Homo sapiens: one gene and its partners. The protein of the gene in region 3 purifies or fractionates together with the protein of the main gene of each other region. This does not show direct contact. Each region holds a gene or a part of one and is shown on either strand. Other genes may lie near its edges.

Region 1 (3,500 bases), on a different chromosome or scaffold from region 3:
TCTGAGACAAGGCAAGTCCCTCCCACCTATGGGCCTGTAAAATCAAAAGCAAGTTTAGTTATTTCATAGATACAGTGGGATCCAGGGATTGGGTAAATACATCCATTCTAAATGGAAGAAATTGGCCAAAATGAAGGGGCTGCAGGCTCCGTGCAAGTCCTAAATCCAGTGGGGCAGTCAAATCTTAAAGCTCCAAAAAGATCTTTTACTCCATGTCTCAAATCCAGGTCATGCTGATGCAAGAGGTGGGTTCCCATGGTCTTGGGCAGCTCTGCCCCTCTGGCTTTGCAGGGTACAGCCCCACTCCTGGCTGCTTTCACGGGCTGGTGTGGAGTATCTGTGGCTTTTCCAGGCACATGGTGCAAGCTCTCGGTGGATCTAACACTCTGGGTTCTGGAGGGCGATGGCCCTCTTCTCACAGCTCCACTAGGGGCAGTGCCCCAGTGGGAACTCTCTGTGGGGGCTCCCACTCCACATTTCCCTTCTGCACTGTCCTAGCAGAGGTTCCCTATGAAGGCTTCACCCCTGCAGCACACCTCTGCCTGGACATCCAGGCATTTCCATACAGCCTCTCAAATCTAGCTGGAGGCTCCCAAACCTCTGTTCTTGACTTCTGTTCACCAGCAGGCCCAGCACCACGTGTAAGCCACCAAGGCTTGGGGCTTGCACCCTCTGAAGCAATGGCCTGAGCTGTACTTGGCCCCTTTTAGCCCCGACTGGGATGCAGGGCACCAAGTCCTGAGACTGCACAAAACAGCAAGGCCATGGGCCCTGCCCATGAAACCATTTTTTCTCCTAGTCCTTTGGACCTGTGTTGGGAGAGGCTGCTGTGAAAACCTCTGACATGCCCTGGAGACATTTTTCCCATTGTCTTGGTGATTAACATTTGGCTCCTCGTTACTTATACAAATTTCTGCAGCAGGCTTGAATTTTTCCTCAGAAAATGGGTTTTTTTTTCTATCACATTGTCAGGCTGCAAATTTTCCAAACATTTATGCTCTATTTCCCTTTTAAACATAGGTTCCAATTCCAAACCATATCATTGTGAATACATAAAACTGAAGTGAATGCTTTTAACAGCACTCAAGTCACCTCTTGAATGCTTTTAACAGCACTCAAGTCACCTCTTGAATGCTTTCCTGCTGAGAAATTTCTTCTACTAGGTACCCTAAGTCATCTCTCTCAAGTTCAAAGTTCCACAGATCTCTAGGGCAGGGGCAAAATGCTGCCAGTCTCTTTGCTAACACATAACAAAAGTGACCTTTACCCCAGTTCCCAAAAAGTTCCTCATCTCCATGTAAGACCATGTCAGCCTGGACTTCATTGTTCATATCACTCTCGGCATATTGGTCAAAGCCACTCAACAAGTCTCTAGGAAGTTCCAAACTTTCCCACATTTTTCTGTCTTCTTCTGAGCCTTCCAAACTGTTCAAACCTCTGCTTGTTACCCAGTTCCAAAGTCACATTTTCACATCTCCTTATAGCAGCACCCCACTTTACTGGTACCAATTTACTGTATTAGTCTTTTCTCATGCTGCTAATAAAGACATCCCTAAGACTGGGTCATTTATAAAGAAAAAGAGGTTTAATGGACTCATAGTTCCACATGGCTGGGGAGGCCTCACAATCATGGTGGAAGGCGAAGGAGGAGCAAAGACCTGTCTTACATGGCAGCAGGCAAGAGAGAGTGTGCAGGGGAACTGCCCTTTATAAAACCATCAGATCTCGTGAGACTTATTCATCATCACGAGACAGCATGGGAAAAACCTGCCCCCATTATTCAATTACCTCCTGCCTGGTCCCTCCCATGACATATGAGGATTATGGGAGCTACAATTCAAGATGAGATTTGGGTGGGGACACAGCCAAACCATATCACCTTCCTAACCAGAGGTCAGATATTATTTGTATTTTTGTTGTTGTGTGTCACAGCTTTGCGGTTTTATTTTTCATGCATTTAAATCTTTAATCCACTTGGAGTTTACTCTGATAATATAAGATTACAGCCTGGGAATCTACATTTTTTACCAAAATGTTTATCTAGATAAGACCCTGGGGTAGGGTGGGGCTTTGGGGGCCAGTTTCATCTAGAAGGCTTCTTGGTGACTATCTCTGTACTCTTCCACCCCTGCCAGGCGTTGGAGACCAGGGCCAGCCCTGGCCACACCCCAGGCTGTGTCACCTTCGTCCTGAATGACCACAGCATGGCCTTCACTGGAGATGCCCTGTTGATCCGTGGGTGTGGGCGGACAGACTTCCAGCAAGGTGACCAGCTCCTTTATCCAGCCCAAGATCTTCATATAGTTACGTGTGTGTCAAGTGTTGAAGTATCTGTTACAAGAATGAATGGATGGACATTAGACTTTTAGGGGGCTTCAGTATTAAATTCAAGGAGTTTACCTGCTAGAACAGTGGTCCCCAACCTTTTTGGCACCAGGGACCGGTTTCGTGGAAGACAATTTTTCCATGGACCATGGCAGGGCATAGTTTCGGGGATTCAAATGCATTACATTTATTGTGCACTTTATTATTACATTGCAATAGATAATGAAATAATTATGTAACTCACCATCATGTAGAATCAGTGGGAGCCCTGAACTTGTTTTCCTGCAACTAGATGGTCACATCTGGGAGAGACGGAAGATAGTGACAGATCATCAGGCATTAGATTCTCATAAGGAGAACGCAACCTAGATCCCTCGCATGTGCAGTTCGCAATAGAGTTTGTGCTCCTATGAGAATCTAATGCTGCTGCGGATCTGACAGGAGGCAGAGCTCAGGTGGTAACGGGAGTGATGGGGAGTGGCTGTAACTACAGATGAAGCTTTGCTCACTCACCCACCGCTCACCACCTTCTGCACAGCCCAGTTCCTAACAGACCACGGACCGGTACCCAGGGTTAAGGACCCCCATGCTAGAGTATGGGAAGAGTTAGATTCAGGGGCTTAGCTGTTGGGGGACAGTTAGATTCAGGGGTGTGTTAGTTACCTATTTGAGCCCAGCTTGGGCAACATAGTGAGACTCCCTCTCTAAGAAACAAATATAGCTAAAAAAAAAAAAAAAACAAAGGGCTGGGCATGGTGGCTCACGCCTATAATCCCAGCACTTTGGGAGGCCGAGGCAGGTGGATCATGAGGTCAGGAGTTCAAGACCAGCCTGGCCAAGATGGTGAAACCCCGTCTCTACTAAAAATACAAAAATTAGCTGGCCATGGTGGTGGGTGCCTGTAGTCCCAGCTACTCGGGAGGCTGAGGCAGAGATTTACTTGAACCCAGGAGGCGGAGGTTGCAGTGAGCCAAGATTGCGCCACTGCACTCCAGCCTGGGTGACAGAGTGAGACTTCATCTCAAAAAAAAAAAAAAAAAAGATAAAAAAAGAAGTTGTTAAAGCCAGCGGTTTAATTGCCAGGGAGCAATGAATGATCCATTTGGAGTCTAGCTGCTAGGGGCAGTTAGATTTAGGAGCTTCCCTGTAGAAAGCGAGTATAGTTTCAGAATCTC
Region 2 (3,500 bases), on a different chromosome or scaffold from region 3:
CCTCCAGCCCCGCTTCACAAGCTCAGGGCTTTACGGGAATTATCGTATTTAAAGCTCGCAGCCAGCCTGGGAGAGAGTTGCTGTTTTCCTGACTTGAGGACCCCAGCCCCATGGGAGGGGTTAAGTTCTGTGGCCAGTGTCACACCACCTGGTCAGTGGTAGAGCCCATCAAGACCTCAGGTCTGGCCGACTCCATGTCTCGTGCTGTCATTCCACCTCCTGTGCAGAGCACAGCCCACGAAGCTGCTGCTTGAAGCCTTCTGGGTGATCTTTGAGTAGTTTTTTAAAAATATAGCAGCTTTATTAAGATATAATTTGCATTCCCTATGATTCACCCATAGAAAATTTACAATTCATGGGTTCTGAGTATATTCACAAAGTTATGCAGCCATCACCACAGTCAATTTCAGAACATTTTTATTGGCACAAAAGAAACCGTGTATCCCTTAGTTCTCTCTTCAGTCCCCACAGCCCTAGACAGCCAACTGCTAATGTACTTTGTGTCTCTTGATTTGCCTAATCTGGACAATTTCCTGTCAATAGAATCATATATGTGTGGCCTTTTGTGTCTGACTTTTTTTTTTTTTTTTTGAGAGGGCATCTCGCTCTCTCACCCAGGCCAGAGTGCAGTGGCGCGATCTCAGCTCACTGCAGCCTCTGCCTCCCAGGTTCAAGCGATTCTCCTGCCTCAGCCTCCCGAGTAGCTGGGATTACAGGCACCCACCACCACACCTGGCTAATTTTTGTATTTTTAGTAGAGACGGGGTTTCATCATGTTGGCCAGGCTGGTCTTGAACGGCTGACCTCAAGTGATCCACCCACCTCGGCCTCCCAAAGTGCTGGGATTACAGGCGTGAGCCACCACGCCCGGACTGTCTGGTATCTTTGACTGAGTATGAATACCTCAGGGCTCATCGGGGTTGCAGCATGTGTCTGTACTGCATTCCCTTTAATGGCTGATTAATCCATCCTGTGGATAGACCACATGTGGATTATTCATCATCAGTTGATGGGCATTTGGAGTGTTTCCATGTTTTGGCTATTATGAATAATGCCGTATGAACATGAAGCTTTTGTGTGGTCATATGTTTTCATTTCTCTTGGTTAATACCTAGGAGTGGAACTGCTGGGTTATATGGTAATCTATATTTAACCTATTGAGGAACTCCCAGACTTCTTCCAAAGTGGCCATACCATTTTCGACTGCCACCAGTAGTTTATGAGGGCTCCAGTTTCTTCACATCCTTGCCAACTCTTGATACTACCTTTTTCATGATACCCTTCCTAGCAGGTGTGGAGTGGCAGCTCGTTGTTTGGGTTTGCATTTCCCTAATAACTGTGATATCCCTGATGATATTCAGCATCTTTTCACATGTTTCATTGGCCATTTGTATATCTTCTTTGAAGAAATGTCTATTTGGGTCCTTTGCTCATTTTTTAATTGAGTTATTTTTATTATTGAATTGTAAGAGTTTTTAAAATCTATTTTATTAAAGATATATGATAATGGATATATGATTTGCAAGTTTTTTTTCCCAATTCTGTGGGGTTTTTCACTTTCTTGCTGGTGTTTAGTTGAAGCACAGAAGTTCTTAATTTTGACAAAATCCCCATTTTATTTATTTTTTCTTTTGTTGTGTGTTCTTGGTATTATATCTAGTAACACTTTGCCTGACCCAAGATCTTGAAGATTTACTGTTACATTTTCTTCTCAGAGTTTTATCGTTCTTAGTTCTTACGTTTAAGCCTGTGATTCATTTTCAGTTAATTTAATTATTGCATATGGTGTGAGGTAGAGCTCCCACTTCATTCTTGTGTGTGTGCGGTTATCAAGTTGTCTCAGTAATCACTTGTTGAAAGAAAGACTGCTTTTCCCCCACTGAATTGTCTTGGCACCTTTGTCAGAAATCAGTGTGCTGTAAGTATGAGGGTTTTTAGTGAGCCTGAGTGTTTTAGTGAGCCTGAGTCCCTTGGCTGTGAATGTCCCCTATGCTTCTCTTCAGTACCCACTCCCTACCCCAGTGGGACAAAGTGGCTGGAATGGGCTGGAGTTGAGTAGCTTCCTTCTCCCACGTGGAAGTCTAGAGCTTACTGGAGTTGGGTGTTTCATTCCCCCAGGTCAGTTAGGCTCAGATAATATGCCCGCAGGAGCTCTGGGTAATGCGCTCCTCGTGAGGGCCGGCCTGGTTAAGGAGAATAGAGCACTCTGGCCTGTTTCAGAATGGTTCCTTTCCCCGCCACACTGCTGGAAGCACAAGCCGATTTTTCTCTGATGTTCACTGAGAGCCTTTCTCTAATATTCACTGAGAGCCTGGTTGAGCTCCTAGGGGTAAAACTCATAAGTATGGGAGTCCCTTATGACTGGGGCAGGTTTTTTCTTTTTCTTTTTTTTTTTTTTCTTTTGGTGTTGGAGTTTTGCTTTTATCGCCCAGGCTGGAGTGCAATGGCGCAATCTTGGCTCACCACAACCTCTGCCTCCCGGGTTGAAGCAATTCTCCTGCCTCAGCCTCCCGAGTAGCTGGGATTACAGGCATGCGCTACCACACCTGGCTAATTTTGTATTTTTTAGTATATCGGGGTTTCTCCATGTTGGTCAAGCTGGTCTTGAACTCCCGACCTCAGGTGATCAGCCCGTCTCAGCCTCCCAAAGTACTGGCATTACAGGCATTAGCCACCACGCCTGGCTGGGGCAGGTTTTTAACTCTCAGACTCATCCACACTGAGCCTCAAACAGTTCATAAATGACAGGGTCAGGCTCTCCCACCCTGACACCAGTTCCCGTGGTGATGTCTGCCCAAGCCTGTCCTGGTGAGCCGGGACTCTCTGTATTGGGCTGTCTGTCTCCAGGCTTAAGGACAGTGATTTACACTCTGTCCTCACCTCTCCTATGGATCCAAGAAGAGCTGATAACTTTTCAGTCTGTTTAGTTTTTTACTTGTTAGGACTAAGTGGTGACTTTTAAGCTTCTCACGTGAGGAACAGAAAACTGGAAGTCTTCTAATACAGATGCTTGAAGGTGTACATTTCTTCTAAGCACTGCTGGAGCTGCTTCCCATAAGTTTTGGTATGCTGTGTTTTTGTTTTGTGGCAAAGCATTTTCTTTTTTTTTTTTTTTTTTTTGAGAGACAGTCTCGCTCTGTCGCCCCAGGCTGGAATGCAATGGCATGATCTTGGCTCACTGCAACCTCCACCTCCCAGGTTCAAGCGATTTTCCTGCCTCAGCTGGAAATCACCTCCTTGCCTCACCTCCCAAGTAGCTGGAATCACAGGTGCCTGCCACCACACCTGGCTAATTTTTGTATTTTTAGTAGAGATGGGGTTTCACCATGTTGGCAAGGCTGGTCTCAAACTTCTGACCTCTGGTGATCTGCCTGCCTCGGCCTCCCAAAGTGCTGGGATTACAGGTGTGCGCCACCGCGCCTGGCTGTCCAAGCATTTTCTAATTTGTGTTGTGGTTTATTGTTGGACTCACTGGTTATTTAGGAGTGTGTTGTTTAATT
Region 3 (3,500 bases):
TCAATGACAGTATTCTCATCTCCTTTATCAAGGAACTGGACTTCATTCTCCTGCAAAAGCTGCTTGATCTTGACCTGTTGCTGTTTGACCCGGGTCTCAAGCAGGCGCACCTGGGCTCTGAGCCGCATCTGCTCCTGGGCACAGTCCTCGAGCGCCTGCAAAACAGGTGAGATGAGATGAGTATGCACCTCATTTTCATGGAAAACAAGTGCTTTTTAAACATTTGGATAAATCAGTGATTCCATTTTGTCTCCAGTTCCCATTTCAGAATATTATTCCAAAGAGAAAGTGGCTTGAAAAGTTCTAATACTGCCTACTATTTGAAGAATTGGAAATTATGGCTTATGCGAAAACTCCTGGACTCAAAAGATCAAATAATATAAAATAATTGGAATCGCTATGCTAGGAGCTTTATAGTTGTCTCCTTTGATCCTCATAACAATTCCATGCGGTAGGAAAGGGCTCAGTCTTGATGCCCAGTGGGTAAGCGGAGGTGGGATTCAAATTCAGTTCAAGGACTGTGCTCTCAATCTCTATATGACATTGCTTATGTGTTTTCTAAACAGTAATGTGGTTTATAGAAGTTAATTGTACTGTTGGCATGTAAATCTCCATAATAAATGAGGTTTTTGAATGGCTGTCTGGTATAAATACTTTTAAATATGTATATTTAATGTATATTATATATTATATATATTATATATGCATATAAATAATATATAATATATATAATATATAATATATTAAACAATATATAATATATAGTATATAATATATTAAACAATATATAATATATCATATATAATATATTAAATAATATATAATATATATCATATATAATATATTAAATAATATATAATATATCTCATATATAATATATTAAATAATATATAATATATCTCATATATAATATATTAAATAATATATAATATATATCATATATAATATATTAAATATATAATATATATCATATGTAATATATTAAATATATAATATATATCATATGTAATATATTAAATATATAATATATATCATATGTAATATATTAAATATATAATATATATCATATGTAATATATTAAATAATATATATCATATATAATATATTAAATAATATATAATATATATCATATATAATATATTAAATAATATATAATATATATCATATATAATATATTAAATAATATATAATATATATCATATATAATATATTAAATAATATATAATATATATCATATATAATATATTAAATAATATATCATATATATCATATATAATATATTAAATAACATATAATAATATATAATATATTAAATAATATATAATATAATAATAATATATAATATATAAAATAATATACAATATAATAATAATATATAATATATATTACAAAATATATAATATGAATATATATGAATATAAATGAATAGATATTATATAATATATAAATATAAATAATATATAATATATTAAATATATTTATATATAATATAATGTAATATAATTGTATTTATTATATTATAGTCTACTTTATATAATATATTATATTTATACATAATATACGTATATATAAAATTACATAATGGATTTATATAGTATATATTATATCAAATACATATGCATATATAATACATTTATATTTATATAGTCTATAATATATATATATTTTTTATATATATATATATGTAGTACATCTCCCCTCCCTCCCATCTCTAGGTCCAAGTCATGGAACCTCTCCCAGCCATTTTTCTAGGATGGTTTCTCCCTTTTCCTTCCCCTTCCCCTTTCCCTTCCTCTTCCCTTACGTTTCCTTTCTCAGAACCTCTCCCAGATATCTTTTCTAGGATGATTTCTTTCTCCTCTTTTCTTTTTCTTTTCTTTTGTTCTTTTCCTCTCTTTCTCCTTCCCTCCTTCCCTCCCTTCCTTCCTTCCTTTCTTTTCTTTCCTTTCTTCCCATCCCTAGGTCCAAGTCACAGAACCTCTCCCAGCCATTTTTCTAAAATGATTTCTTTCTCCTCTTCTTTTTCTTTTCTTTTGTTCTTTTCCTTTCTTTCTCCTTCCCTCCCTCCCTCCCTTCCTTCTTTTCTTTTCTTTCTTTCCTTTCTTCCCATCCCTAGGTCCAAGTCACAGAACCTCTCCCAGCCATTTTTCTAGGATGATTCCTTCTCTCTCTCTCTCTCTTTCTTTCAACAGAGTCTTGCTCTGTTGCCCAGGCTGGAGTGCAGTGGTGCGATCTCGGCTCCCTGCAACCTCTGCCTCTCTGGTTCAAGCGATTCTTGTGCTTCATCCTGGCAAGTAGCTGGGACTATACAGGTTGTGTGCCATAACACCCAGCTAATTTTTGTATTTTTAGTAGAGATGGGGTTTTGCCATGTTGCCCAGTCTGGTCTCAAACTTCTGGCTTCAAGCGATCCACCCACCTCGGCCCCTCAAAGTGCTGGGATTACAGGCGTGAGCCACTGCACCAGGCCTCTCTAGGATTACTTCTTATTTGTTCTTGTTACTCTATCCCTAACACTCAGATTTATCCCTTCTGAGATAGTTATTTGCTTAGCACCTTGAGTCACATAGGCTAAAAAATGAACAGCAAGAACATTTTATGGTGTCTGGGTCCTGAGTTGTTTTACAACAGTGGGGGATCGGTTGTGATATTGTTAAACATAGTGCACTATGCAATTTTAAAATAATTGAAGACATCACAGGTCAAGTATGCCCAATCTTTATGAGATTGCATACGCATATTTAGTAAGCTTATTTAAAACCTAGGAGTTTTCTTTCTCCAAGAACTTTGAATGAATGTTTTGTCTTTTTTATTCACAAATGAAGGACAACACAAGTTCGATGTAATTACTTTCAAATAATCTGGTTAGTTTTACACTTTTCAATATTGAAAAGCTCAAGGTTAATTTTAATTACTATGGACAGTTTCAAATTTCTAATATTCCAACCAAATAACTCCAGTGAATTTTTAAAAATTACTTATTTATTATGAATACTTTTTATTTAAAAAAATGTAAAGCACTTTTTTTTTTTTTGAGATGGAGTCTCACTCTGTCGCCCAGGCTGGAGTGAAGTGGCATGATCTCAGTTCACTGCAATCTCCGCCTCCTGGGTTCAAGGGATTCTCCTGCCTCAGCCTCACGAGTAGCTAGGACTACAGATGCGTGCCATCACGCCCGGCTAATTTTTTGTATTTTTTTTAGTAAAGATGGGGTTTCACCATATTGGCCAGGCTGGTTGCGAACTCCTGACCTTGTGATCCACCCATCTCGGCCTCCCCTGCAAAAATGTAAAGCGCTTTAAAGTGCTGCTTTACTATGTGTCCAGTATTTCTACCAGCCTCTTTGCTTTTCCCACATAGTTAAGTTTTTTCAATGACAAGTCACTATAGGTTTAATGCAAAATGAAAGAAAATTCAGATAAAAGCAGGCATTATAAATATGACAATAGTTTTCCCAAGAAGCTTACCGAAATTTCCCTGCCCATTGTCAGAGCGGTGGT
Region 4 (3,500 bases), on a different chromosome or scaffold from region 3:
ACTACCAGCATCAGCTTCGGGGCTTTCTGCACTTTCCAGTCATTTTGATAAAAGAGAATGAAATGCAATAAAATACCCAAATAACTGCATGGATGGTGGATGCCACAGGTGAGATGAAGGTGGCAGCTGGAGACGCGGGACCCTGCACTGTGCCCTGCTGTTGCAGGCACCCTCCCGCCAGACTGCTTCTCATAACTGAGGCAAGGGAATTCAACCAACGGGTAAGGCCCACGGCTCGAAAGCCTGCCCTCACCACTGTCACCTCCCCTGGCAAAACAGTGAAAAGTCAAAACATGGACTCTGAAGAAAGTGTGGTTGACGAGCTCATCAGGAATCCCTGTGTGAATGTGTGTGAACACGGGTGTGCACGGGAGAGGTCTTCCAGGGCTCATGCTCGGTGTGGCCATGCTGACTGACCTGGCACTGGCCCATGCACAGAGGGCAGCCGCCACTCACCCTGCTGGCCGTTGGAGAGGATGTCGCGCTCTCCTTTCTGGACCACCGTCACGTTGCCCAGGGCTTGGCTGAGTCTTAGCACAGATCCATGGCTGTCATCGCTGTCCATAGGGCCTCTGAGCTATGACAACACAGGAAGACAGAGAAAAAGCAAAGTCTTCCTCAGACACACGACGACAGATAGCCCTGTCCCATCCGCCATGAGACTCATGCTCTCGTGTCTAAAGGGATCACCCAGGCACCTGTTAAAGGCCATGTAGGTGGGAGGATGCCCAGGATATCACCTGCAGTGAGTCCTCCGAGCAGGTGCTGACACGGTGCCTGCTCCAGTGCCCATCCTCTACCTCATCAGAGCAGGCTGAAGGAGGACCACCCAAGACTGGGTTCTGAGAGCTTTGCAGGAGTAATACAAATTCCAGTCGTACTGGGCACTAACATTGATGGGACACTTACCATGTGGGGACTCACGGCTTTACATAGGTTTCCTCATCTCATCCTCACAACCCCGTGAAGCTGATGCCATCATCACATTACAGATGAGGCACTCAGGACACAGACAAAGTGACCTGTCCAGAGTGCACTGCAGGAGGGGCTGACTGACCCGAGTCCCTGCCTGTCCCAAGCCCACTACACCATCGTTCATCCAATCCAAGCGCATTAATGGGAAGACGCGCCATCCGCTGGGAGAGGCACAGCGATTACTTGCAGGTGTGTCCACAGGGACAGGCTGGGCAGAAGCATGGAGCTCGTCCTTCACCCTCTTCAGGACGAACAGGGCTTGCATCTACCCTCCAGGGGGTCCACTGACTCACCACAGCGTCATACAGTCTGCTGAACTCCACGTGGTTGGGAGTGAGCACAGCCTTCCGGTAGCCATGGATGAGGGCCGGCTGCTGAGCGACCAGCCACAGGCCATCCTGCACAGAACAAGGAGCCGTGCTCACTGCACAGGCCTTCCGGGAGTCCGAGCCAGGAGGAGAGAAGTCAACTCACCGCGTCGATGACAACAGGGATGTCCCTGGCCTTTGACACTTCCAAAATGCCCTGCCAGAAGAGAAAACCAGACTGAGCACCATGCCTGCTGCTATGGTGTGGGTATGTGTCTTCTCAAAACTCATGGTGAAACTTAATTGCCAAGGGAAGGGTCCTGGGAGGTGGGGCCTTTAAAAGGTGATGTGGCAGTGTCCTCATGGGTTGGTTTAATGACCTTTAAAAGAGGCATAAGGGTCTCTCTCCTGCCCTTCTGCCCTCGCCAGATGCCGGCACCTTGATGTTGGACATCCACCTTCAGAACTGTGAGCCAGTAAACGCCTGTTCATTATCAATTACCCAGTCTGTGGTACGGCTACAGCAGCGCAAAACCGACTAAGACACTTTTCCCAAGAGTGACAGAAAATTGAGCAGACTCTTAATAAAATGCAACATCAGGCCATCAAACAATAAATGGAAAATAATCAAGTAAATGAATAAAATAGAGAAGCAGAAAGACCCAATGAACTCGCAGAGCCCGTAAACAAGGCAGGACACTGGGAACTCTGAAAGGCGAAGCCCACTGGAAACGCTATGAACAACAGCTGGGCTCCTAGGCTAACCCATGAAGACAGCCCCCGCCCCAGCAAGGGCATCCAGTTCTCCAACAGATACTAATACGCAGCATTCGGAGGCAGGAAATCTGAATTCCTGAGAATTCCCCAAATCATTAGTCATTATGTATTTTTCATATCACTTTACTTACACGTTTTAAAATAACAACAATAATAAACAGGGAATCATTTTTCCCTGATAGGATTACAGTGAAGGTTTCAAAGGTTTTCTATTAAAAAAAAAAAACTACATGTATAGATACACACACATATATGTAATATTTGGTGGTTTTTATTATTATGAGCCAATACATTGTGACAAGATTATACACTGCAGTAGCATGTAAAGTGATCCTGACTTGACAGACACCTGATAATACAAAACATTAAAATAGAAAACATTAAACAAAATGAGAGGTGACAGCATGCTGGCAGTCCTCAGAGCCCTCGCTTGCTCTCAGCACCTCCTCTGCCTGGGCTCCCACTTTGGCGGCATTTGAGGAGCCCTTCAGCCCACCACTGCACTGTGGGAGCCCCTTTCTGGGCTGGCCAAGGCTGGAGCCCACTCCCTCAGCTTGCAGGGAGGTGTGGAGGGAGAGGCGCGAGCGGGAACTGGGGCTGCCTGCAGCGCTTGCGGGCCAGCTGGAGTTCCGGGTGGGCGTGGGCTTGGCGGGCCCCGCACTCGGAGCAGCCGGCCAGCCCTGCTGGCCCGGGGCAATGAGGGACTTAGCACCCGGGCCAGCGGCTGCAGAGGGTGTACTGGGTCCTGCAGCAGTGCCAGCCCACCGGCACTGTGCTCAATTTCTCACCGGGCCTTAGCTGCCTTCCCGCCGGGCAGGGCTCGGGACCTGCAGCCCGCCATGCCTGAGCCTCCCACCCCCTCCATGGGCTCCTGTGCGGCCCGAGCCTCCCCGACGAGCACCACCCCCTGCTCCACGGCACCCAGTCCCATCGACCACCCAAGGGCTGAGGAATGCGAACGCACGGCGCAGGACTGGCAGGCAGCTCCACCTGCAGCCCTGGTGCGGGATCCACTGGGTGAAGCCAGCTGGGCTCCTGAGTCTGGTGGGGATGTGGAGAGTCTTTATATCTAGCTCAGGGATTGTAAACACACCAATCAGCACCCTGTGTCTAGCTCAGGGTTTGTGAGTGCACCAATCAGCACCCTGTGTTTAGCTCAGGGTTTGTGAATGCACCAATCGACACTCTGTATCTAGCTGCTCTGGTGGGGCCTTGGAGAACCTTTATGTCTAGGTCAGGGATTGTAAATACACCAATCGGCACTCTGTATCTAGCTCAAGGTTTGTAAATACACCAATCAGCACTCTGTGTCTAACTCAGGGTTTGTGAGTGCACCTATCGACACTCTGTATCTAGATGCTCTGGTGGGGCCTTGGAGAACCTGTGTGTCGAAACTCTGTATCTAACTAATCTGATGGGGACGTGGAGAACCTTTGTGTC
Region 5 (4,100 bases), on a different chromosome or scaffold from region 3:
CATGATCTCAGCTCACTGCAACCTCCACCTCCCGGGTTCAAGCGATTCTCCTGCCTCAGCCTCCCAAGTAGCTGAGGACTACAGGCACATGCCACCACACCTGGCTAATTTTTGTATTTTCAGTAGAGACGGGGTTTCACCATGTTGGCCAGGATGTCTTGATCTCTTGACCTCGTTATCCACCTGCCTCGGCCTCCCAAAGTGCTGGGATTACAGGCTTGAGCCACTGCGCCTGGCCAGAACTATACATTTTCATTTCAACTTAGCTTAAAGAAAAACATGTACCTAGGAGTCAAAACTCTTTTCACCTCCCCTCTGTTTTCTATGTGACCTGTAGCAAGGTGCCACATTTTTCTGGGCCTCAGTTCTTTCATTTGTAAAATAAAAACATTTATCCCCTGTGTCCCTCAGAGGGGCTGGGAGGCTTCACCAAGAAGTGAAACACTCTGAAAACTCTCTCCTAAGTGTTAGCATACTATCATTAATCAACTCAAGAGGGCACAGCAGTCATAATTTTTCCCCAGAACTTTGTTTCAAGTTTACAGTGAAAAATTTTAATTATCTTCAAATCTGTGATGGGATTTTCAAGAAAATATCTTCACTATTGCAAATTTAGGACAAAATGTTCCAAAAGTCTCTCAGGACTGAAACTATAGAAAAGAGAACCAATAATTGACTTTGATCAGGAACTGCATTAACCTCTGAGTTAATTACCCTAAAACTTAAGACAACCTCTTTGGTTGTATTGAGAAACTCATTTGGGAAGGGTGAGGAGCCAGACCTTACAAACTAGAAATATAAAGGAAAGATCATGCCACGCCACCACCTAGCTCACTCTAATGGGAGTATGAAAAACAAACTTGCCTTTGCATATTTAAATTATTTTAAAAGGGAACAAGCGGAAAAACTTCATCAACATTAGGACCCCCTCATGGAAGTAGAAAAATACAAATGAAAACACACCTACATCCCAAAATCCTAGCACATGCCTAAAATCAAAAACTACAACGATGCTCTACTCTAAATATGCCCAAGATAATACTCACTGAAAGCAGAAAGTTTGTATTGCCAGAGGAACAGCTACAACAGAGGAGGGGAGCTATTTTGTCTCTGGAATGAATTTTCTTCCTTCCGATTCCATTCCTTCTTCCTGTACCTAAGACGGAAATGCAGGTGCAGTGAACAAACACCCAGGTAGTGCAGAGGTAAGATAGATACGGTTTCTGAAAAATCACAACTCGACAGAGCAATTTCGGGGGGGTGGGGGGCACAGCAAATAGCTAGAGAACAGGCTCTCCTTATTTCAAAACCTTGCAAACTCTAAATCTGAGGCAGCCGTGAAGTCCCATGCCCTGAATCATCTCATCCTTAGCGTCATCAGCAAGAAGGGAGGACACTGAGAATCAAAGGTTTTATTTATTGAACTCGAGCATGAGACGCACATTAAAACTTCCCCACCACAGATGCAGAGCAAAAGTTGCTCTCAGGCCAGAAGAGACCATTTAAAAGCTCTCCGCCGGTTTCAGAACACAAATAAATTTCCCAATCCTCTGCAAAGACAGAACTGAAGAATTACTGGACAGCACGCCAGAGGCAGGGACCTGAGGGCAGGCCATCTTGCTATGCCGGGAGGAGACGGTCACTGTTGCTAAGGGTCATCCATCCTTAGTCTCGAAGAAATCTCTTCCTGATCTCTTCACCAACTCTCCCCACTACTAGAGAATTGAGCTACTCCCAAAGATGTAAGTAAACAGGAGACTGTTTACATCTCCTGTGGGTGGGAGAGGCCCCACCCACTCTATCCTAGGAGAGGGCAGTGAAAGAGGATAAGGCCCAGAGGGATAAGGGTGAGGGAGCATGGCAAGGAGAGGAGTTCAGATCAGGACAGGGAATGTAGGAGGGCAAGGAGTGAAGGGCACAACCCACAGCCTGGGAAAGAGAGGCATGAAACCCAGCGTGTCAGGTGGACGGATCATGGAATGGGGGGCCAGCGGAGGTTAAGGAAGGAGGGCCCAAGAGTAGGGGTGCGAAAAAGAGAAGAGGAGGAGGAGAAAGTGCGCGTGTGAAGAGTGTTAAGAAAACGACAGGACAGAGCGGGGAGGGGAAAAGCGGGCCGAGGGACAGGGTGAAAGGTGAGAAACGAGGGTATGAGGAAAGAGGGTCCGGGGCGCTGGGGAGTTGGGGAGACGATGGAGCGACGGGTAGAGCAGCTTGGGCCGAGCCGCGGGGGTGGAATCCAGACGCCGGGCGGGGGAGGGGGCGGCGGGGCGGCGGGACGGTGGGTGGGGGCCACCAGGCGGCGCCGGAGACCACCAAACTTTACAGCGAGCGAGCCTGCTTCCTGGAGGGAGTGCAGACAAGGACCAGGAGCGGGAGCCGAGCCTCGCGGCCCGGGGCACGGCGCCGCCCGCCCCTCCCCGGCAGTGCCTCCCGACCCCCTGCCCTCCGCTGGGACATGGCCTGAGGCCCCGCCCGCCGCCCGGGACTCCTCCCCCCCGCTGCCCCCGGACCCTCGCCCCAGGACCGCGGGGTCTCTTCCCGGCCCCGCCGCCCGCCCCGGCGAGAACAGGCCCGGCGGGCAAGGCGGCGGCGGACCGAGGGAGGCCTGGCCCGGCAGCGGGGAGAAGGGTGCGGCGCAGCCCGAGTTTCCCACCTTTTCTCCTGGCCCAGACGCGGCTGGGGCGGACGGGACCTCTCGCGCTCTGCCTCCTCCTCTTGCTTCATGGAGCCATGCGCCTGGGTGGGGGCTCCCGAGAGAAGCTGGCCTGCGGGCGGGCCGGACGCGCTGCGCGGACGGGGCGGGGCGAAGGAGGCCGGCGGGCGGAGGAGGAAGCGGCGGGGCGGCGGCGGCGGCGGCGGCCGGGAAGAACTAGAGGTATTCCCCGGGCGGCTGGAGGACTGAGTCGAGCCGGGACCCGAGTCCTCCGGTATCCCAGCAGCCACCGGAGGCAGTGAGGTAATGGAGGAAGAATGTAGGGAGTCCTCCAGTGGACCACACTCCTTCTAGCGAGCCGCGGAAACCATAGAGATCAGGGCTCAGCCGGAGGGCCGGCCCACTGCTGTCACGTGGCCTCCATCCGTGCGCTTTATTGGCTGGTGCTGGCTTTACGGGGTTGAATTTTGGACGCTGCCTGCCATTCGTGGGACCGAGTTTCAGGCAGCTGGAATAAAGAGAGACATCGGGGGAAAGCCGCGAGAAGGCCAGCGTCCCTGGCTGGGAGCAGAGCTAGCCGAGTAGGGCGCCCGGCTGTCAAAACTGGCCGGCGCAGTGCACGCTGGGCCGCCCCGGAGCGGTCGCAGAGCCCGTCGGGAGTCGTAGTCCGGGACGGGCCCGCAGCATTGTCCGCGACGCAGCTCGGGATCCGCGTCGGGTTGTCGGCCGGGTTGCTGCCAGGCACCGTCGAGCGTTAGCCACCCAGCATTGAGCTGCCAGCGGCTGTTCTCCCTAAGCACCCTCGCTCACGTCGCCTCGCCTCGCCTCGCCTGACCGGCCGCAGCCTTGGATACCAGCCTTAAATCGAGCCGACTACGGCCCAGCCCCGCCCGCGGCGAAGTGCGCGGGGTTCGGTGCCAGCCGCTCGCCCCTGGCCGGGCCAGCCTCTTGATGCACCGGGGACGGGCGCGCCCATCCGACTCTTCGAGGGGCGGCAGGGCCCCATCTGTGTCTTTCGCTCTCGAGCCCCCAGCTAGAGTTGGCTTCAGCGGAATACCTACTGTGCAGGATTATTCAACAAGCCGATTGATCACATTCTTCAGCTCTAGCAGTGCAAAGGCTTCACTGAAAAAGAACATTACAAATTTTTTTTGAAAGAAATTTGGGGGTAAATTTAATTTTAAATACTGATTTTTGATAACATTTGATCTTATGACAGCATTTGTATTTTTAATTACAGATAGGATTACACTAAAAGTCATTTCTGACCTGCTCCCTTACCCTTATGGCTAAAATAAACTGCTAGGCCCTGAAGCAAAGGCGAGCCATGTTCTAGAGCAATGTCTTTCTTGTATTAAAATACGGCCCCATGCTCACATATAGGCTGTTTTGTGTTTTGCTTTTCTGTTGATGCACAAAGGAATCCTTGATATGTTTGTCCTCAAAG
Region 6 (3,500 bases), on a different chromosome or scaffold from region 3:
GCTGAAAAGTTACAGGATCTCTTCCAGGAGGAGGATGGCAGTACAGCAGCTTACCCTACAAAGACAACATGAATGACAACAGTGCAGCCTAAGTGCCATCTGTGGCCTCAGAGGAGACAGCTCCACCCAGTCACACTCTGATGGAGCTTTCTGCCTTCTGGTTAAGTTAGCTGAGTTGAGTTTTGGTCTACTGCAGCTGAAGAGTCCTTTTTCTAATACATCAATGGTCAAAGTGTTCTAGAGACCTAGCTCTTCCCATGGCGCCCCAGACTAGGATGAAATCTCTTTCTTCTTTTCTCGTTTGCATTCCCACTCAAGTATTCTTCAGTATACGGACATGATCATACTTATGGTGAATATTTTCCAAAACAAAACTCAAGACATAACTGGACAGTTACGGTAATGCCGGGTTAGACTGTTAAAGTCAGGAGAGTTCCTCGACTCCTGTATGTGGGGTTGCAGTTGCTCACTGGGTGCAAGTCTGCCTCTTTCCATCATAAATGATCTGAAGGCTGTGACTATTTTTACCTCATCTTTACATCCTCCACAGTAAGTGGTAAACGAATACATGACTTATCCATACCAATAGCATGAACTGCTTTCTTCCTGAACTGAAGGCAAGCCCATATGGTTGCCACTGAGCTCCAAGAGCTCCACCGATGTGGTCTTGAGAAGAGGAGGAAATAAAGCCAAATCCTCACAACTGGTTATTAACAGGGCCCTGTAATGCTTATTTGTGGAAAGAAACTTAATAGATAACAATTACTGGGGGCTCATTATGTGCCAGGCATTGAGCTTAGTGCTACACACACACACACACACACACACACACACACACAGACAGACACACACACACACACACACACACACACACACACAGACAGACACACACACACACACACACACACACACACACACACACACACACACAGAGTTTTCATTTATTTCCCATAATAATCTCATGAGATAGGCCCTGTTCATCTCCATTTTACTATGGGGAAACCCCCAAATAGCATGTTCTCATTTGAAAAGGAGAAATAGTAATCTCACAGACTTGTTACATATTTGTACTGAGAAGACGCACGTAAAACAGAACTATTTCTAGCAGGGTTAGCTTTCAAGAAATGTTAGCTGTTATCGTTACTAGGCAAATATAGAGATAGGCATATAAACAGCTATACTACAAAGAAGACTGTGACAATAGTTGCAATCATAACAAGCAAAGGGCTGTAGGAGACAAAAAAAGCCAGATGCATATATTGGTGATTTTCACTCATAATAGGTGTTCAGAGATCTCCATCTTTTGTAATGTCTATAATCCATATAATGTTAACTACCCTACATCAAGAACACAACTCCAGTTTCAATGAAAAAATATTTCCTTTATAATCGAACAGGTTACCATTATCTAAGAACGCAGAATGTGGAAAAGACTTGTGTATTGGAGAGCATGAGAGGCAGGGTTCACTTACACTGACATAGTCCTTCAGGATGTAGCGCGCAGATCGAGGCTGGTCTGGCTGTCCATGCGCTGTCATGAATCCTCGCATGTCTGTGGAGAGAAAAGAATTTTGCAAAATCTTAGATGACAGAATATCACAACAAAGACAACTGAGGTGATGTAGCTTCTATTACTAAGCATTCTTACTCTTGGATTTTAAAAAATTAGGTATCATTGTAGAATATATATTGTTTAGCATTAAAAACACTAGATAATCCAGGAGAATATTTACTTATATCTGATATCCTAAAAATGCCACCTAGCACCACGCTATGAAAGACAAATTCGATTTCTCTCTACTCCAGTTATTTCTTCTCTTTATTTTATTTTTATTTTATTTTTTGTTGAGATGGAGTCTCGTTCTGTTGCCCAGGCTGGAGTGCAGAGGCACAATCTTGGCTCACTGCAACCTCCACCTCCCAGGTTCAAGCAATTCTGATGCCTCAGCCTCCCAAGTACCTGGGATTACAGGCGCATGCCACCACGCCTGGCTACTTTTTGTATTTTTAGTAGAGATGGGGTTTCACCACGTTGTTCAGGCTGGTCTTGAACTCCTGACCTCAGGTGATCCACCCACTTCGGCCTCCCAAAGTGCTGGGATTACAAGCGTGAGGCACTACACCCAGCCTCCTTATTTTAAACATTTATTCATGGAGGCTACCTGTAGGAGAATGCTACGCTATCAATACTACTTGCAAAACAGAAAGCAACAGAGAAGTTTTCTTACTGAATGATGTACCTACATTTTTTTCCCCAGTAAGATCCCTTTAATACTAACTCAATTAGAAAAGCAGCGAAGCATGGTGGTTAAGAACACGGCTTCAGCAGACAGGCTGCGTTCAAAACTCAGTTCCCTCACATACTAGCTGTCGACTGGCTTTTCCAGTTTCGAAGAAAATAGTTAGAATCCTAATTTACACAATATACAACAATAAATTTCGTCAGATTAAAAATCTAAATGTTAAAAAAGTAAGTAAATATTACAGGAAGATAGTTTTATCTTTTTGGGAGGGAGAAGACCTTCCCAAGTAAAACACCAAACCCAGTCAAACCAAAAAGGAAAAATATAGTCTATTAAAATTGTCAACTTCTTTGGGGCCAAAGAAACCATAAATTAACATTGGAAAAAATGTGTAGCACATATAACAAAGAACTTTTACAAATCATTAAGACAGAACCATGTATAGGAAAATGTGATTCCCAGAAGAAAAATAAATGGTCACAAAACATTTGGAAAGATGCTCAACTTCACTAGTATTTAAAGAAATACAAAGTAAAATGAGAGTAATCTGGCAATATCTTTGAAAATTTACTGTCAGAGATTTTCTTCTATATGGACTTGCAGATAGTGAACTTAGAAATTGTACGTGTGGTCATTTGCTTTTACAAACTGGCTTTTTCCTTACTCTGATTTTATCAGGCAGCATTAGATGAAACATCTTAAAAGACTCACATTATTTTCAGTTGTATCGGAAGTACAATCAAACTGGAAGTTTGGTGGAAGTCCACCTTTCTGCATTTTGCAGGCTAACATCCTGCAGGGAGATCTCACCCAGGCTATTCCACTGACCAGCCACCTCACCTTGGGTCAGCTCAGGCTCTGAGTTCGGATGATTACTCTTAAAAGCAGGGGCTAGGAGGTGAGGTGATCTTTAAGGTCTTTTCTTGTTCTATGAATCTGTAATTAGAATAGTCTTACCACAAGTGTTTAGTATTTATCCTCTTTAGAGTCTCTAAGTTCAAGGTTTAAGTGTGATTCATATCAAATCACCTTTCACCTTTCTCTGCCAGTAAATACTCAAATAAGCTGAACTCCTTCCCAACCAGCAGCAATCCCTGTAAAGGCAAGTCACCCACGCACGGAAATGTTTCCCACACTGCTATTTTTTTTTTTTTTTTTTTTTTTAGGTAGACACAAGGTTCTCCAGGCCACCTTTAAAGTTTACATTTAAGGCAAGAAATCATAGGTTCCCACGTGGAATTGGGATAAAACACAGAG
Region 7 (3,500 bases), on a different chromosome or scaffold from region 3:
TTTTTCTTTTTGAGACAGAGTCTTGCTCCGTTGCCCATGCTGGAGTGTAGTGGCGCCATCTTGGCTCACCACAACCTCCGCCTACTGGGTTCAAGATATTCTCCTGCCTCAGCCTCCCAAGTGACCGGGATTATAGGCGCCCGCCACCATGCCCGGCTAATTTTTTGTATTTTTAGTAAAGATAGGGTTTCACCATGTTGGCCAGGCTGGTCTTGAACTCCTGACCTCATGTGATCTACCCACCTCGGCCTCCCAAAGTGCTGGGATTACAGGTATGAGCCACCGTGGCATGGTGGCTCAGCCAGGTTTTTCTATCTTTAAAATAACAATAACAGGCATTTCTCTTCTCACTGGTTTGTTTTGAGATTTTGACATTTAAATGAGATGTGTGTAAAGTGCTACAGTAGGCCCCAGCGCCTGCCATTTCTCACATATGTATGTGAAGTGGGCATGTCTCCTCATTATAAAGAAGAAAACAGGCTGGAGCAGTGTGTGTCGCTCAGATGTCAGCTATGTGGACTGTTACAAGACATTTTCCTAGATTGCTGTACTTGTGAGTCATTCTGCCTGTCCCTGTCCTTCATTTCAACCTGTCCTTGGGTGGGATTGCACTCTTGTTTCTTGTAGGTGCTGGAAAGTCCCTGGTTGGTGTGACTGCTGCATGCACTGTCAGAAAACGCTGTCTGGTGCTGGGCAACTCAGCTGTTTCTGTGGAGCAGTGGAAAGCCCAGTTCAAGATGTGGTCCACCATTGACGACAGCCAGATCTGCCGGTTCACCTCCGATGCCAAGGACAAGCCCATCGGCTGCTCCGTTGCCATTAGCACCTACTCCATGCTGGGCCACACCACCAAAAGGTCCTGGGAGGCCGAGCGAGTCATGGAGTGGCTCAAGACCCAGGAGTGGGGCCTCATGATCCTGGATGAAGTGCACACCATACCAGGTAAGCAGGCTGGAGCTGAGCTGTCCACTTGCTGAACAGACAAACCAATTTCCAGTTGTTAGGTTGGGAAAGGGACTGCTGTGTAGCCCACCCAACTGGCTAGAAAGACTTGCTGGCTTGCTGGGTAAAGCTTTTAATAGTTCTTTTTTTTTTTTTTGAGAGGGAGTCTCACTCTGTCACCCAAGCTGGAGTGCAGTGGCACGATCTCAGCTCACCACAACTTCCACCTCCCAGGTTCAAGCAGTTCTCTGCCTCAGCCTCTGAGTAGCTGGGATTACAGGCACCTGCCACCATGCTAGGCTAATTTTTGTATTTTTGTAGAGACAGGGTTTCCCCATCTTGGCCAGGCTGGTCTTGAACTCCTGACCTCGTGATCCACCCACCTCATCCTCCCAAAGTGCTGGGATTACAGGCGTGAGCCACCGTGCCCGGCCAGTAATTCTTAAGTGGGATGCAGGCAGGAGTGTTCACATTCACAGTTTGCTTAATCACTGGCTCAGTAGTGATTTAGAAAATGATATTTTCTTTCCTCCATCTTCCTTTTGCTGCTCAGCTTCATCCGTTTTTTAATGGCCCTCTAAAAACTGGGTTAGGAGCACTGAAAAGCCCTTCCCAAAATGGTGGTGATGTGTTTTATTTGAAGCCCGGAATATTGATCCTTAGTCAATATGTAATAGAAGCCCTACTTCTCCAAGTATCATGGGCAAACCTTTTTTTTTTAAGCTGCTCTATTGATTTAATTTATATACCATAAAATCACCCCTTGTAAATATATAATCCAATGAGTTTTAGTAAATTTGTGGACCAGTGCAACCATGACCATGATCCAAGTTTTCTTTTCTTTTTTTTTTTGAGATGGCATCTTGCTTTGTTGCCCAGGCTGGAGTGCAGTCGTGTGATCTTGGCCCACTGCAACCTCCGCCTCTAGGGTTCAACTGATTCCCCTGCCTCAGCCTCCCAAGTAGCTGGGACTACAGGTGTGTACTACCACACCCGGCTAATTTTTTTTTATTTGAGACAGTTTCGCTCTTGTTGCCCAGGCTGGAGTGCAGTGGTGCAATCTCAGCTCACTGGAAGCTCTGCCTCCCGGGTTCAAGTGATTCTCCTGCCTCAGCCTCCCGAGTAGCTAGGATTACAGGTGTGCGCCACCATGCCCAGCTAATTTTATATTTTTAGTAGAGACAGGGTTTCTCCGTGTTGGTCAGGCTGGTCTCAAACTCCTGACTTCAGGTGATCCGCCCACCTCAGCCTCACCCTGGGATTACAGGCGTAAAGTACCACACCTGGCCAAATTTTTGTATTTTTAGTAGAGAAAGGGTTTCGCCATGTTAGCCAGGCTGGTCTTGAAGTCCAGACTTTAAGTGATCTGCCTGCTTGGGCCTCCCAAAGTACTGGGATTATAGACGTGAGCCACTGCATTCGGCCACCATGATCCAGTTTTAGATTTCCTTTGTACTCATTTGCAGTCAATCTTTGTTTCTCTATCTAGCTTCAGATGACTACTGAACTGCTGTCACTATAGATTTGCTTTTTATGGAAAATTTATATAAACACAATCATACAATATATATTATGTCTGGCTTCTTTCACTTCCCATAATGATTCATCTGTGCCTTAGCATTTATCAGTAGTTTGTTCCTTTTATTGCTGTATAGTTTTTTGGGCGAATCTTTTTTGATAAAAACAGATTAAGGGATTAAGATTAACAAATTAGGAGTGGGCATGGTGGCTGACACCTGTAGTCTCCTAGCACTTTGGGAGGCCAGGGCAGGAGGATTGCTTGAGCCCAGGAGCTTAAGATTAGCCTGGGTAACATAGTGAGACATGTCTCTACAAAAAAAAATTTTTTTAATTAGCCAAGTGTGGTGGTGTGCACCTGTGGTCTCAGCTGCTGAGGAGGCTGAGGTGGGAGGATCACTTGAACCTGGGAGGTTGAGGCTGCAGTGAACCATGATTGTGCAACTGTACTCCAGCATGGGTGACAGAGTGTGAGACTCTGTCTCAAAAAAAAAAAATAAAGATGAACAGATTAGGGTAAATTAAGGAGTCTAATAGAGGTTACTATGAACAAAATGAAATCTGAGGCATTTTCACAGGTAGTGTTCAAAATGTCAAAATGGCCCCAGCATCTGGTTCTTTCTGTGCATGAGAGCTCTTCAGCCCTGATGGGTTTCTGGAGATACCTAGAGATGTTCACAGCTGGCCAGGGAGGGATTGGAGGTCTTTCTGATGGAAGCCCAGGGTGTGGGCCCTGCTGTGGGAAAGTACTTGGCATAGTGAGACAGCACAAGGTGGCCATGCGGCCAGAGGAGAGCATAGGAACAGTAGTCAAGGCTGAGGAAGATTAGCGGTATTGGGGCAGGTCTTGTAGGACCTTGTAGGCCACGACAAGAACTTTGGCTTGTACTCTTAGTGTGAAGCCATCTGAGGGATTTGAGCAGAGCATGACATGAGTTGACTTTACACTGTAAAAATACTGCCCTGGCTGCTGTGCTGGAAATAGACTGAAGGAAGCAAGACAGAAGCGGTGAGGTGAGTTTGTGGAATCCCAGTAAGGA

Evidence for each region.
Region 1: the proteins of FGL1 (region 3) and ETHE1 purify together in Homo sapiens (affinity purification with mass spectrometry; 4 studies listed by BioGRID and IntAct, with this or other methods). This does not show direct contact.
Region 2: the proteins of FGL1 (region 3) and GOLM1 purify together in Homo sapiens (affinity purification with mass spectrometry; 4 studies listed by BioGRID and IntAct, with this or other methods). This does not show direct contact.
Region 4: the proteins of FGL1 (region 3) and NAXD purify together in Homo sapiens (affinity purification with mass spectrometry; 4 studies listed by BioGRID and IntAct, with this or other methods). This does not show direct contact.
Region 5: the proteins of FGL1 (region 3) and AMMECR1L purify together in Homo sapiens (affinity purification with mass spectrometry; 4 studies listed by BioGRID and IntAct, with this or other methods). This does not show direct contact.
Region 6: the proteins of FGL1 (region 3) and LSG1 purify together in Homo sapiens (affinity purification with mass spectrometry; 4 studies listed by BioGRID and IntAct, with this or other methods). This does not show direct contact.
Region 7: the proteins of FGL1 (region 3) and ERCC3 purify together in Homo sapiens (affinity purification with mass spectrometry; 4 studies listed by BioGRID and IntAct, with this or other methods). This does not show direct contact.

The regions. Positions count from the first base shown.
Region 1 is NC_000019.10:43,510,202-43,513,701, reverse strand, and holds part of ETHE1 (persulfide dioxygenase ETHE1, mitochondrial), read left to right. Parts: intron 1-2,135; coding exon 2,136-2,265; intron 2,266-3,500. UniProt on the Homo sapiens protein: Sulfur dioxygenase that plays an essential role in hydrogen sulfide catabolism in the mitochondrial matrix. Hydrogen sulfide (H(2)S) is first oxidized by SQRDL, giving rise to cysteine persulfide residues.
Region 2 is NC_000009.12:86,037,059-86,040,558, reverse strand, and holds part of GOLM1 (Golgi membrane protein 1), read left to right. Parts: intron 1-3,500.
Region 3 is NC_000008.11:17,882,025-17,885,524, forward strand, and holds part of FGL1 (fibrinogen-like protein 1 precursor), read right to left. Parts: coding exon 3,468-3,500; intron 156-3,467; coding exon 1-155. UniProt on the Homo sapiens protein: Immune suppressive molecule that inhibits antigen-specific T-cell activation by acting as a major ligand of LAG3. Responsible for LAG3 T-cell inhibitory function. Binds LAG3 independently from MHC class II (MHC-II).
Region 4 is NC_000013.11:110,632,545-110,636,044, reverse strand, and holds part of NAXD (ATP-dependent (S)-NAD(P)H-hydrate dehydratase), read right to left. Parts: intron 1,501-3,500; coding exon 1,450-1,500; intron 1,374-1,449; coding exon 1,269-1,373; intron 578-1,268; coding exon 457-577; intron 1-456. UniProt on the Homo sapiens protein: Catalyzes the dehydration of the S-form of NAD(P)HX at the expense of ATP, which is converted to ADP.
Region 5 is NC_000002.12:127,883,157-127,887,256, forward strand, and holds the start of AMMECR1L (AMMECR1-like protein), read right to left. Parts: upstream 2,801-4,100; 5' UTR 2,654-2,800; intron 1,705-2,653; exon of another isoform or gene 1,602-1,704; intron 1,157-1,601; 5' UTR 1,047-1,156; intron 1-1,046.
Region 6 is NC_000003.12:194,644,692-194,648,191, forward strand, and holds part of LSG1 (large subunit GTPase 1 homolog), read right to left. Parts: intron 2,739-3,500; exon of another isoform or gene 1,553-2,738; coding exon 1,473-1,552; exon of another isoform or gene 56-1,472; coding exon 1-55. UniProt on the Homo sapiens protein: Functions as a GTPase. May act by mediating the release of NMD3 from the 60S ribosomal subunit after export into the cytoplasm during the 60S ribosomal subunit maturation.
Region 7 is NC_000002.12:127,284,145-127,287,644, reverse strand, and holds part of ERCC3 (general transcription and DNA repair factor IIH helicase/translocase subunit XPB), read left to right. Parts: intron 1-627; coding exon 628-942; intron 943-3,500. UniProt on the Homo sapiens protein: ATP-dependent 3'-5' DNA helicase/translocase. Binds dsDNA rather than ssDNA, unzipping it in a translocase rather than classical helicase activity. Component of the general transcription and DNA repair factor IIH (TFIIH) core complex.